Homo sapiens: one gene and its partner. The protein of the gene in region 1 interacts with the protein of each later gene in a pairwise test. Each region holds a gene or a part of one and is shown on either strand. Other genes may lie near its edges.

Evidence for each region. Proteins that work in one complex are often made in the same cells at the same time.
Region 2: the proteins of SH3BP2 (region 1) and DBNL interact in binary tests that used the Homo sapiens proteins (3 or more experiments, as listed by UniProt).

Annotation. Positions count from the first base shown.
Region 1 is NC_000004.12:2,831,076-2,838,100, reverse strand, and holds part of SH3BP2 (SH3 domain-binding protein 2), read right to left. Parts: intron 6,531-7,025; coding exon 6,422-6,530; intron 6,179-6,421; coding exon 6,123-6,178; intron 5,771-6,122; coding exon 5,689-5,770; intron 5,112-5,688; coding exon 5,052-5,111; intron 4,405-5,051; coding exon 4,267-4,404; 3' UTR 1-4,266. UniProt on the Homo sapiens protein: Binds differentially to the SH3 domains of certain proteins of signal transduction pathways. Binds to phosphatidylinositols; linking the hemopoietic tyrosine kinase fes to the cytoplasmic membrane in a phosphorylation dependent mechanism.
Region 2 is NC_000007.14:44,061,698-44,068,722, reverse strand, and holds part of DBNL (drebrin-like protein), read right to left. Parts: 3' UTR 5,960-7,025; coding exon of another isoform or gene 5,793-5,959; 3' UTR 3,892-5,792; coding exon of another isoform or gene 3,711-3,891; 3' UTR 3,608-3,710; coding exon of another isoform or gene 3,194-3,607; 3' UTR 1-3,193. Other genes in the region: PGAM2 (phosphoglycerate mutase 2), read left to right, coding at 3,194-3,607, 3,711-3,891, 5,793-5,959. UniProt on the Homo sapiens protein: Adapter protein that binds F-actin and DNM1, and thereby plays a role in receptor-mediated endocytosis.

The sequences.
Region 1 (7,025 bases):
GCCTCAGCTCTGAGCCCCTCAGAGTGGGGCCAGGGAAGAAGCAGACGGCAACGCCAGGGCAGCTGTCTGGCAGCCTGGAAGGCCTGCGAAGCTTCCTAGGGGTCCGAAGGAGGGTAGACAGGTAGGGGTCTGCTCTGTACCCATCAAATCTCCCTCCAGTGAGAATGGCTGGAAGATGGCTTAAAAGGGTTCACCACTCACACACACTTCTGAGGTGGTGGGGGTTGTCTGTCAAGCATCTTCACAGGGTCACTGCCCCTCTTCCCCAAGGACAGGCAACCTCCTGGCACTGCCCCCTCAGCAGGCAGTCTAGGTGGAGGGAACAGGGCGTGCAGGCAGAGATAAGGCAGGGGGTGTGTGCGAGGTGCCCAGCGAGGGGCTTGATGCTGCTGGGTCACAGAAACAGAGGTTGTGGCCCTTCCCCCATTCCCCTCGTCTAGAGACAAGCACGGCCCTCCCATGTTCCTGGTGTGACCCTGGTGTCCTAGGCCATCCCTCCAGCGCCTGGATCACCCTCAAAAGCCTCTTCCCTGCTGAGCTTCAATCTGCCTTTCTATGAAATGGCCCCAATAAGCCCTGCCTGCCTCAGGGAACTAAGCCGCAGGTCCCAGGTCCCCCTCTCCCCCAATGCCCACCCTCGCCCATCCTGAGGTGCAGGAAGCACCTCCCTGGGGCTGCGCTGAGCCCCAACCAGCAGGGGAGCTCCGCACAACGTGGCCCAGAAGGATCAGTGGGAACCGAGGTTTCTTCTGGTTCTAAAAACATCTTTTCAAGGCTGGGCGCCGTGGCTCGCGCCTGTAATCCCAGCACTTGGGAGGCCAAGGTGGGCGGATCAGTTGAGGTCAGGAGTTCAAGACCAGCCTGGCCAACATGGTGAAACCCCGGTTCCACTAAAAATACAAAAATTTGGCAGGCAGCTGTAATCCCAGCTACATGGGAGGGTGAGGCAGGAGAATCGATTGAACCCTGGAGATTTGCATTGAGCCGAGATCACGCCAATCCACTCTAGCCTGGGCGACAGAGTGAGACTGTGTCCCAAAAAAAAAAGAAAAAATCTTTTCACAATACAAATCTTTATTAACTGAAGGCACGGGGCTCACCACAATCCTTCGGATGGAACCACAGGAAGAGAAGAAGCATGTTTCACCCTGGGCTGGGGGTGCTTCCCAAAGCCACTGGGGCCCTTTTCCCAAGCCCCAGAACTGAGCCCACCTGAACTCATCTTGAAGGTAGGTATGTCAGTGAGTCCTCCCAAAGCCTCAGTTTCCCTATCTATAAAATGAGGAAGCAGGACTGCCCCTAGGGCAAGGCCTAGGCCTCCTGCCAGCCCACCCTCACAGACCCAGAGGGCAACGCAGGGTGAGGCGGGGCAGTTTCACTCCCCAGTGCTGTGGCCCCCTTGGTTGAGTGAAAGCACCTCCAGAGCCCTAACCCTAGCCCTGGGAGCCAGGCAAGAGACCCCCACAACGACCATCAGAGGTCGTGAGGGGTGGCAGGGAGCCTGGCAGGGAGCCAGGCAGGGGCCAGGGTCTAGGCTCAGAGCAGTGAAGGATAGATAGGGTCACATGCCAGTTAGTGGCAGAGGTGGGACTTGAACCCAGGCCTCTGTGAGACTTGGTTCTCTCACCTGTAAAATGGGTCTACTAGCAGCTGCTTCTCCAAGCAAATGATGTCAAGCACCCAGCTCGGCACCTCACAGATGTGGTCAGTAAATGGTAATCCCAACCCTACCCTTATATGTGGACTAGAACACTTATGGCAAGTCTCGGGAGGTCATGGGAACTCCTCATGGCTCCTTCTTCATGCTGGAGGACCACGGCCTGCCCCATCCCACCCCAACACACTCTTGAAACTGAGGCCCTCGGCCTAGAGCAGCTCACACAGACGTGGACAGCTGTGCTAGCAGGTGCAGAGTCTGGGAGGCGAGGCTGGACCAGGGCCCCAGCTGGGCTTCGGGTAACCACAGGCCTCAACTGTCCAGTTGGCCAGAGGGACCTATCACCTGGCTCTGGGCCCCAGGATGCTTTAGCCACTTGAGCCGGCTCCAGGTGACCGTGTAAGTGACATAAAGCAAAGGTGTCCTGGACTGCACCACTCACTAGCTCAGCACCCCAGGCACCAGGCTGGAAACCACATCTCGCACCCAATTCTCCATTTAAAAATTTTACAGGAAGGGGCCAGGCACAGTGGCTCATGCCTGTAATCCCAGCACTTTGGGAGGCCAAGGTGGGCAGATCACCTGAGGTCAGGAGTTCGAGACCAGCCTGGCCAACATGATAAAATCCCGTCTCTACTAAAAATACAAAAAATTAGCCAGGCGTGGTGGCGGGCGCCTGGAATCCCAGCTACTCGGGAGGCTGAGGCAGGAAAATCGCTTGAACTAGAGAGGCGGAGGTGGCAGTGAGCGGAGATCACGGCATTGCACTCCAGCCTGGGCGACAGGGTGAGACTACATCTCAAAAACAAAAAACTAAAATAATAAAATTTTACAGGAAGAGAAACTATGGCCACAGTGGGGAGTGGCATGACTCCCTAAGCAAGTTCAGGTCAGACAGGGCAAAGAATTCTGACTGCAGGGAGGAGGAATGGCTGGTTTTCCAGAGATAGATCAGAACAACAGAAGCTCCCTGTGCTCCAGCCTCGGCTGTGGTGCACTGACCTCTCACCCCAGGCAGGCTGAAGAGGAAACCCCTGCAGAGGTGGCCTTGGACACCTGGTTCCTGGAAGCAGCTGGCTGCCGTCATCTGCAGGGCCTGCAGTTCCACCGCACCCTATGGCCCCCTGGGGTCACAGCCTCCCACATCCGCTAACCAGCCTCATCACTTGTTTCCGCCAGCAAACCACAGGTCCCCAGAACACACCCAGGGGAAGGGGGCTGCAGGACCTTCTCCCCCAGTCAGTCACTGTCAGTGGGCCCAAGTGCTGACCTCAGTTTAGGTTTCCCTGACATAAGGTGCTAAGAAAAATCACAAGGATTCTAGGGTCCCTGCCAGCCCCTACCTCCCTGAGTCTGTTTCATTAAAAATCCAGCCTGGAAGGTGTGCCAGGGAGAGTGACCTGCTGGAACTCCATGGCAGAAAGTAAGGGGATGGATTGGGGCTGGGCCTGAGCCAGGTATTGCCTGGAAGACTTGGGCATCTGGGTACCACCGTCCCTACGCACCCTTGGCCTGCTTAGGGTCCACTGTTCCCATCCCATCGTAGCTGTTACTTCCTCCAAAAAATCTTCCGGGAGCCCCCAGTCCCTGCACACCCAGCTGCCCTGGACACTGTGCCGTAAGCACCTCATACCCAGCTGTCCCCAGACTGGGCTGTGAACTCAGCCAGGCCAGAGGCCCCTGTCTGGAATGGGACCAGGCATGCAGGAGGTACCCAATAACTGCTCGCTAATGCAGGGAATGAAGCAGCTGTAGCTGCAGGGCCTTCTAGCTCTGTAGCCCGCTCAGTGTATGCAAGTTCTGGAACGGGGACAGCCACTCAGGAGGTACCCAGTAACCAGGCACTAATGCAGGGAATGAAGCAGCTGTAGCTGCAGGGCCTTCTAGCTCTGCAGCAGCACTGCCCTGGCCTGACCTGAGGCAGCAGAACTGGTGAGTGGGGTGTGGGCTCCCAGCCCAGACTGCCCAAGTTTGGGTCCTGATCTGTTACTCGCTGTGCACCCTGGGGAAGTCACTCAGTGACCTGCACCCTGGAAGACAAGACAACCAACTGTTGGGGTTCCCGGGTACTGCTGCGGTCACCACTTAGACATCAGCATGGGCACCCAGTAAGCTGGTAATCCCCTCCTTCCCAATCAAGCCCCAGCCACCAAGGCAAAGCTCACTGCTGCTTTATTGGAGGCAACAGCCCCTACTGGAGCCTGTGTCTTAGCGTTCCTGGGGGTCCCAGGGCCAGCCCCGGCCCCCACCCAGCTGCCCTGGCCCTGCCTGGCTCCCAGCCCACTTAGGGGTGAGTGTGATGGGGGGACCAGTGTTCCTGTCCTTGGAGCCCAGGCACAGCTTGGTCCTGGGTTTCTGGGATTGGGACAGGGCAAGTTAGTGTGGGGCAACAGAGTCCCTTCGTCCTCTGGAGCCTGGCGCCTGGTTCAGCCCTAGAACCCAACCTGCTGGATGAGACTGGCTGGGTCCTACGAGATGTCCATCACAGAGGCCCTAGGCAAGCACAGCCTTGCTCCTGCTCACCCTCCCATGTGGGCCCATGTCCGTCTGTGTGGCCTGGGGTCAGGGCCCCTGTGACTGCCTTGGCCTGGCAGCCACATGGACTGCCATCACCTAGGCCCAGTGTAGCCGTAGGGGTGCCGCAGCAGCAGGCTCTGGTGGCTGGGCAGCACGTGGGTGTGGTAGTGCTCCACCATGCTGCCCACACTCACAAACAGGACCTCGCCCTCCAGGTAGAACTTAGAGTCCTGTGGGGGAAGAGAAGGGGGAGCGTCAGCAGGGCCAGGCCACTCTGCGGCTCTAGGCCTCAGTCTCCCCGTCTGTAAAACAAGGCAGCAGCATCAACAGCGGCATCACCAGGCTGGCCCCTGGCTGTCGGTGGTGCCCCCAAGGTGGCCTCCGCATCAGGCCTGTGCTCTCCATGTTCCCACCTCACTTCCCCTCCGTCCTCCATGTCCAGGAGCCTGCACCCAGAGCACTTCAGACAAGGTCAGGAAATGAACCTAGGCCAGGCACGGTGGCCCACGCCTGTAATCCCAGCACTGTGGGAGGCCGAGGTGGGAGGATTGCTTGAGCCCCAGAATTTGAAACCAGCCTGAGAAAGACAGTGAGACCCCTGTCCCCGCAAAAAGAAAAAGACAAGACAAGCAACCCAGGGTCTATGGCTGACCGCCCATCCCCACTAGGGTCAGTGGAGGACAAAGGTAGGCCACGAGAGGAGGGAGGCTGAGCAGGAGGGGTGGGGGGTGAGCGATGGTGGAGGGGAAGGGGAGGGCGGTATCCTGGAGGTGCCAGTCTCAGTCTACCCGCTGCCTATGCCTCATCAGGGAGATTCTGCCCTGCCCCTTGCCAGGCCATGCGGCCAGGGTCCCCGTCCCACTCAGAGCCCTCTCACCTTCTCAAAAATGCGATAGTTCCTCACTTTGTTAGAGGTTTCGTCCCACACAACCAGGACCTACAGGACGGAAGCGGGAGGCTGACGGCTCCCTGAGAAACAGCGGGACCAGCCTCGGGAGACCATGGGCTGGGGATAGGGGGGCAGAACCATCAAGGCTGGGTCCTGTGGCCCTCGGGGGGCGGGGAGGGACTCCAGACCACCTGCACAAGGACAGCGGGGGCGACACTGGCAGCCCTCAGAGAGCCTCTGATGAGCAACAGCTCATAACCACCAATAACCACTCCGACACACCCGGGAGAGCATGGCTCAGTGAGGTCACAACTTCACGCTCGGAGGGACACGGGCAGACCTGGCGTTCCCCTGCCCCATGTGGCCTCCGCCACCCCAGAGCATGAGCCCTACCCCACCCGAGTCCTGGCCCCCACTGGGAGGTGGCCATCATGGCCCCCAATTTGCAGATGGAGATCTATTAGGGAATAGATTGGGGGGTGCTGCTGGGAAGAGAATTCAGCTGAGACACCAAGTAAGAGTCCACAAGGGGAGTGGTTTAGGAACTGTGGAGTCCTGGGCCCACCCACAGCCTGGGTGTGTGGAGAGCCAGAGGGGCCCTGGGGCATCTTCCCCTGGCGCCTACCTTCCCCGACTTGGTAGAGGAGTTCCGGATGCAGTAGAGTCCATCCTGGGGCTCTCCCCGGGGGCTTGTAGCCTTGAACAACCTAAAATAAGACAGTCATATTAGCGGGTGAGTCCTCCTCGGGCAGCTTTCACACGGACCTTCCCGCCCCGCTCCCAAGCCTGGCTTTCTGTCCTCTCGCTGTTGTAGGTCTCAGGAGCTGAGCACGTCGGGCTGCCGTGAGGCTGACAGAAGCAGCCCAGCAGAGCCCTGGCCAGCCAGGGTGCCAGCTGGGCATGGGACAGAGCAGGGAGGTCCACTCCTCTGGTTTCTGCTGCACGCAGGGCCATGAACTTGTGCCAGCAACTCCCCAACACGGAAGCTAGTGAGAGGGACACAGAAGCAGGAAGCCGGGCATGGCGGAGGACCCAGCACACACAGGGCTTTGTGCTGACCTTTCCACTTCGCAGGACTCCGTGGTGTTGACGAAGACCGAGTTGGGCAGTGGCACCTGCAAGAGGCTGACGGTGTCAGTGCCAACGTCGGAGTGATCCACCCGCACCACCACTCCCCGGACGGTGGCCACCCGGTGCCGGGATCCGGGGCTTTACATGGTGCTGTGTCCCCCTAGGCTCCCGGGTTCTCGGGGGGTCCTTGCTCAGGACGGTCTGTGAGGGGCCGCCCTGGCCTATGGCTTTCCCACCACCTGTCCACCTACTGGCCACTGGGACCCAGGCTTGCCGCTCAGCCTTGCCTTCTCATAGTCCTCGTCCGAGTCGTCCCCGCCAGTGTCAGCCTGTGAGGGTTGCCGGGGCTTTTCAAAGGAGAAGCTCCTGAAACTCTGCCCATCGGGGGGTGATCGCCTGGAGGGGCAGGGAGAGGAAGGCAGGACCATTTCACTGTCAGACACGGGGCGGCCACCCTCTGCTCCCCTCCCCACTCCACCCTCTGTGTGAGGACGGCAAGCTGCCTGCTATGGCCCCTGTGACCCTAAAAAGCTCAGGACAACAGAGATCCGGGTAGGGCTCGTGCCGACTGCCCTGGGACAGCAGGAATCGCCCGACACCGGAGTCAGGGGTCAGGGCTGCCATGGATGCTGGCAAGGGAGTCCAGGGTTCCCAAGCTCAGTGTCATCACACCGTCAACAAGTGCTCTGGATGCTCGTGGGGAGGGGAGGTCCGGTCATGGCCAAATCACAGCCCACTCAGAGCCACAGGGGAGTGGACGTGAACTGGATGAACAATGCAGTGTGACCCCAAAGGACGCCCATGGCGTCCCTGCACGCCTCCCTGTGTGGCTAGCCGGTCCTGCTCAGCAAAGCCTCAAAGGCTCTAGGGAGGATTAACGGGCCACGCCAG
Region 2 (7,025 bases), on another chromosome or scaffold:
CTGTTTAAGAATATTCACCAATACTTTCTGAAGGCTGGTTATAAATAGCTGCTTTGAAGTCTGTATCTGATCATTCCAATAGTTGAATCATCTCAGGATGGGCATGTATTGATCATCTTCTTTTCTCCCATGTTAAGATTTTCCTGGTTTTCATACACTGGGTTATTTTGGATAACCTGGATATTTTAAATATTATGTTGAGACTCTGGACCTTGTTTAAATCCTAAGCAGAATGTTGACTGTTTAAAGTGTTTGCACTACTAGTCATATTAGTCCTGTATCTACACCGGTCAGTCTGGGACCTGCAATGTGCATCTAGGGTCAGCCCTGTGCGCAGCTTGGCAGCAAGCCAATGACTTCACATATCACTTTATCGGATCACTCACTTCATCTCTCCCTTCTCTGTACTCTCCCTGAAACACAACAGCTCCCTGCAACATCCCTACCAAGACCTCCAGCCACAAATCTGGGGCTCTTTCCCTACCTACCCTGCTGCATACTCCCTGAAACTGCATCCAGGGCCCAGCGCAGGGGGGCAGAAAGGAGCTGCAGAAGGTGGTTGCCCCATGCTTTTGGGGCCATGGCTCCTCTAGACAGAGGGTAGCGTTACCCTCTCAGGTTTCAAGTGCGTACCCAGCTCACACTACCGTCACTGTGCCACCACTGCCACCTCCATGTTACTGCCCAGGAGCTGGGGTAGAGAAGAAAAGAAAAATTGGAGGGATTCCCCCAACTCACTGACTTCGAGGGGCTTCACATCCCACTCCTCTGATTCTTCCTGGAGCTCTTTCTGTTGGTGCACTTGAGGTTTCAAGCCGCCTGTGTGTCCAGGCTAGGCAATACTTGTTACCTCACCACTTCTCTGCGGAACTTTGAATCTGATCTCCTTTTCTTATCTGTCTACTGACAGCTGCTCCTGCATCTGTCCAGGATTGGTGGCTGTCAGTGGGAGAGACATGGGAAGATGCTCCCTCCACCTTCCTGGGACCACCTTGTTGACTCAGCAGCCTTCCTCGCCGCCCACCATGCTATGCCTTCCTGGATGGAGGCCCTGAGGGTGGCTTTTGGTTTTCCTACCCCTGTACCCCTCCAAGAAAGCTCTGGCACACTGCAGAGGCCAGCAACTACTTGTCAAATGAATCAAAGGAAAGTCAAGCCGGAGCCAAGGGTCAGAAGCAGGGGCTTGCTTCCCCGAAGTCCAGCCCTTCTTTGGGCTCCCCTTTCCTTTTTGACACCTCCTGCTTGGTTGGCAGTGAGGTCTCCCAGGTCTGGGGGATCCTTGCCACTGCTTCTGCACCCAGCCCTGGCTAAGCGGCCTTGTTCTCATCAAAGCTGCCGAGACCTGCAGGGTACTCAGCTTCTACTTCCACTCCTACACAGCTGCAAGTGACTTGAAAATATGACCATGCTTCAAAGTCTCCAGTGATTCCCACTGTGTTGGGACACAAAGCCCACCTCTCTGCCATGTGCCCCTGATGGTCGCTGCCCCAGCTTGTTTGCTTTCTGTAGGGCTTGGGTCTTTGCCAACCCCTCTACCTGAATTGCTCTCCCTGTAGGACTCATCATAGCTGAGGCCTTTGCACTCCGCTCTTTCCACTCACATGTCACCTCAGGGCTGTCCCCGGCCTCTCCTTTCCCATCTCTCCCAGTACATTATGGTCCTTCCTTCCTAGCATCTGGTGCTATCTACGGTAGGCATGTTTAGCTGCTGGTACGATCCCTCCTCCACTGAAATATGGGCTTCATGTCTGGCCCCTGTGGGACTGCCAGAGCCTGGTCCTCAGTCATGTTTAGTTGGGCTAGTGAATCAACTCTTGGTCAAAGGGACAAAAGCAGATGAGGAGATGTGGCTTCAATCAGGATCAGTGTGGAACAGTGAGACCTGCGCATGGCACTGCTAGGAGGGATGGGTTCCACCTGCCAGCCTTGGGGGTCCTGGCAGCCGACAGGACTTTGCCCACTGGGACTTGTCTGCCAACCTTTGGGTACAGAGCCTTAGCTTCACAGGCCCCAAGCCAGGAGCCCCTCCCCAGGTAGGCCAGCAGGGATGGAGGGAGGCCTGTCGAGGGTTTCTTGCACACTCAGATCCAAGTCTCAGAGTGGTGGTCCCTCTGCTGGCCTCTCACCTACCCGCTCCTGTTATCAGAAGTGTCGCAGGTGACAGTGTGGTCACTGGGGTGGGAGGAAATGGGAGGCCCTGGATGGGGCCCATGCCCAAGGGTCTGGCCATGGCCCCTTCATTAGGGCCCCAATTGTGACTTTATTGCTCATAGTCTCTTCCCTGCCTTGGTGGCTCTCATCCCCCAAACCTGAATGCAGAAGTCTTGGTCCTAGACTCAACTCCGTGCCACCCTTCAGCCTACGTTGTGGGTTCCTGCTAAGCTGAGCATTTACCTAACAATCAAGACTTCTGACAGTCCTCAGTCCTGCCCCCAAACCCCCTTGGATTTCTCTTTTTCAAGGTGGTTTCGGCTAGGAGAGTGAGCGTGGCTTGGGTGAGGGCAGATAGGGTGGGAGCATGGGGCATGTATGGATGAGACCTTGACAAAGGGACCCCGGAGGAAAGACAGGGGCCCTTTCCCCCTTTGTCCTGGAAACCCGGCTCAGCCCCAGCCCTTGCCCATTCTGCTGCTGCTGCCTGGTACCTTCCACAAGGCCAGACTCCTCTCCACAAAGCTGTGGTCTGCACCAGCTCCTCTGGCTCTCCTCCTCTGCCTGCTGAGGGCCGCCTCCTAGCCTGGCTGCCAATCACAGGAGAAAGGGGTTGGGATTTTGTTTGTGCCTCTGTCTGAGCAGAGAATGGCTGATAGGCCACTGAGCGTTGCCCTGGAGAGCCCCTCTGTCCCTGCTATCCCCATCTCCCCTGGCCCAGACTTCTGCCCTTCACGCCCATCCCTGACCAGCAGCCCCACTCAGTCTGGGCTCTGGGTGCCAGCTGGTTATAGACATGCCACCTGAACCCAGGCCAGGAGCTGGTGGATGCGTGGGGCTATTTTAAGCACAGCCTCTTGGCCTGCACACTCCCCTGGCCCCCAGCCCCCAGCAGCTCAGCTACTGGTCACCTGCCACCGCCTGGAATGCTGATTGGCAGTTGGCTGGGGTGGGTGGGGGCTGGGAAGACACTATTATAAAGCTGGGAGTGTTGGGAAGCAGCCGTCCCCGTCCAGAGTCCTCTGTGGTCCCTGCTGCCACCATGGCCACTCACCGCCTCGTGATGGTCCGGCACGGCGAGAGCACATGGAACCAGGAGAACCGTTTCTGTGGCTGGTTCGATGCAGAGCTGAGTGAAAAGGGGACCGAGGAGGCCAAGCGGGGAGCCAAGGCCATCAAGGATGCCAAGATGGAGTTTGACATCTGCTACACGTCAGTGCTGAAGCGGGCCATCCGCACCCTCTGGGCCATCCTGGACGGCACGGACCAGATGTGGCTGCCTGTGGTGCGCACTTGGCGCCTCAATGAGCGGCATTACGGGGGCCTCACAGGCCTCAACAAGGCAGAAACGGCCGCCAAGCACGGGGAGGAGCAGGTGAAGATCTGGAGGCGCTCCTTCGACATCCCGCCGCCCCCGATGGACGAGAAGCACCCCTACTACAACTCCATTAGCAAGGTGGGCTGCCTTTGCTGGGAAGGCCTCTGGGAAGCTGCAGAGTGGGGAGTCGGGTGGGGGCCCACTGGCTTGGGAGGGAAAGCAGCGTGCCTGTGTCCCCCAGGAGCGTCGGTACGCAGGCCTGAAGCCCGGGGAACTCCCCACCTGCGAGAGCCTCAAGGACACCATTGCCCGGGCCCTGCCCTTCTGGAACGAGGAGATTGTTCCCCAGATCAAGGCCGGCAAGCGAGTGCTCATTGCAGCCCACGGGAACAGCCTGCGGGGCATTGTCAAGCACCTGGAAGGTGAGGCCACCTTCAGGAGCCTGGGCAGGGTGGGTGGGCAGCAGCCCCAGCTGGCTTCTCATCTCAGCAAAGTCTCTCGCCCATGGACCAGGCTTTCTAGGCGTGGGGCTCCACATCATTCACTGAAAAAGGAGGGCTGAGAAGCCATTTTTTAGTTTTGTGAAATTTTCCCCATTTCTGTGTAACTGGGACACACTCCACAGGGGCTGACTGCACTCGAAGCTCGCTGTGTCCCGAGGTGGGGCAGGCTCCAAAGGTGGCATCTGCCAAGGGACACCCAGCTAGGAAACGGAAGGGCTGGGCTTAGAGCATCTGGCTCCAAATCCCAACTTACTGTGGGGCCCTGGACAAGCCACCTCCATCTCTGGGCCTCTCCCTTTTCCGGGGTGGTGGGGAGCTCCCCCTGGTACTGAATTCCTCTTGATGTAGGCTTGGACCCCTCGCAGGGCCCTCCCCCATCAGGTCCTCAGAATCCCTGCATGAGCTTCACCACCTATCTCCCTCTGGAGCCCCTCTCTGGGCAAAGGAAAGACCAATCAAAAGAGGGGTGCAGGACTATGGAGTGGCCAGACTCTGGGCTTGCAGCTGGGCTCCCACTGAAGAGCAAGGGCTGACAAATGGGCCCGGGATGCATGGGCGCAGTAAGGCCTCGCCCAGAGTGACTGGCACCTCCGCTCCGCCTCCCACCTTAGTATTCTGACACAAGGGCAGTCTAAATTAGCATCTGAATGACCTTAAAGCTTGTTGAGTCCTGGAAAGGCTAGAAGGGTGTGCCCCAGACCTCCTGCTCCTAGGGCCGTTGGGCAGTTGGCCAGAGCACCCAGACCGGCAGGCCCCGGAGACCCAGCCAGCCCCAAGCCTGCCCGCTCCAAACACGGACACCTGGCACCTGGCACTGGGGCCAGGCAGAGGGAAGGACCACCTGCCTCCTCTCCCTTCCGGAGACTTCATGCAGCCCCATGACCCTCCCACAGCCTGGTTTGGGGAAAGGGGACGCACTTTTGGTGGTGAATATGAGGGATTTCACTCTGACTCCCCAGAGAACATTTTCTTAAACCCTCCTGCACGGAGCAGGGGTGGAGTGGCGCGAACATCAAAGGTCGAGCTGCTATTCCCAGCTCAGGGGCTGCAGGAGGCAGGCAGGGTCAGGTTTCGACCAGGCTCGGCCTCCCTGTCCCTCCTCCAGCTCCATTCCGCACTTGCTCCTCTGTTCAGGATGTCTAGAATTTAGAGCACTTTAGAAACCAAAGGGTGCTGGGCACGGTGGCTCACTCCTGTAATCCCAGCACTTTGGGAGGCTGAGGCAGGCAGATCACCTGAGGTCAGGAGTTTGAGACCAGCCTGACCAACATGGTAAAACCCGTTTCTACTAAAAATACAAAATTAGCCGGGTGTGGTGGCGCTCACCTGTAATCCCAGCTACTTGGGAGGCTGAGGCAGAATCACTTCAACCCAGGAGATGGAGGTTGCAGTGAGCCAAGATCGTGCCACTGCACTCCAGCCTGGGCAAGAGGAGTAAAACTCCATCTCAAAAAAAAGAAAAAGAAAAAGAAAAGAAAAAAAAAAAACAAAGGGTGAGTGTCCCTTCCTGACCCTCAACTTCAGTCTGGCTGGAGTCACACTGGGCTGAGGGAACTATGGACAGCACCACCACAGATCACAGCCACTTGGGTGGGGCTGAAGTCCCCATTTTTTTCACCACTGGGCTATTTCTGTAGGCTGCTTGGTCTAACTCAGTTACTCCTTGACCTTTGGCAACATTTCTGTGGCCTCGTTCTCAGGGCTGGGAAGGAATTGGTGCCAGGGGAACTGGCTCTGTGGACCATAAAGGTCACATAGTGTCTGCTGTGTAAACAGGCTGGGGACAGAGGGGCTAAGGACACCTATTCCTTCCGGCATAGGGATGTCAGACCAGGCGATCATGGAGCTGAACCTGCCCACGGGGATCCCCATTGTGTATGAGCTGAACAAGGAGCTGAAGCCCACCAAGCCCATGCAGTTCCTGGGTGATGAGGAAACGGTGCGGAAGGCCATGGAGGCTGTGGCTGCCCAGGGCAAGGCCAAGTGAGGGGTGGGCTTGGGCAATAAAGGCACCTCCCCCAACAGCCTGGAGTCCAGCGCAGCCGTGCATGCCAGGCTCACACCGCCATCAGCTGTGGGGACTCCAGAACCAGGGGTGCAGCCACCCACCCTCCCCCACTCCATACGTGTGTCACCAGGGGCAGGAGCCTAGTACCCACACCTAGTCATCAGGACACTGAGCCAGGGCTGCAACCACTCCATGAGTTTGCAGTCAGGACAAGCCTGTGGTGACCCTGAAGCTTCAGAGCCACTTAGTAACCATGCTCCAGAATTGGCGTGCTTGGGGCCAGTTAGAAGAGGCCAAGTGACCCAGCTCTCCCCATGGGGAGCAAGGACCACAGCCCAGGACACGGCTTCCTGGACAGCTTCCTGCAGAGGGCAGGTGGTCCTCTGCTGTCCTTGCAACCCCCGGGTGGCACTTTGAGCCCTGCCTCTTGGGTTGGGACAGGCAAGCCCACAGGGGGCCTCAAAGCTGGCAACAGCCCAAACCTGGGTCTTCCATGGGAGTGGAGGGGAAGTTCCCTCTTCATGGGAGAGGCACCAGGAAGCCCTGGCGAAAAGGGGAGAGGCCTGAGCACAGGAAGGCCAGGAGCAAGGTTGGGCTCCATGCAGCCTTCACCCCAGGCACTAGCAGGTAACACCTTGAGTCAACCGCCTAGCAGTCTGCCTAGCAGCTCTGGGGCACAGGAGGGACCTAATTCCCCGGATGCTCAGTGGGTGCCAGGTACCTGACGCCACACAGTGGGCCATCCCATGTAGGCAGAGGCTCCCTGAAGCTGGGAGCAGGGCAGCCCTTGGCCTCTCCTAGAGGAACTGGAACGCAGGAAGGCTCCAACTTCAGTCCCATCTTAACATTTAGCCTCTTCCTGGTGGCTGATCATCATCAGCCACAGTCTCAGGGTGAGGGTGCTCACCCCAGACACGGAGCAGAGGCAGACACTGGGCAGGTGGTGGGGTGCTATTCCCACATGGGAGCATTCAGGCTACAGCAGGACAGGTGAGAGCTGCGAGCCTGTGTAGACCAAACTGGGAATTCGTGGTCCAAAAGCATA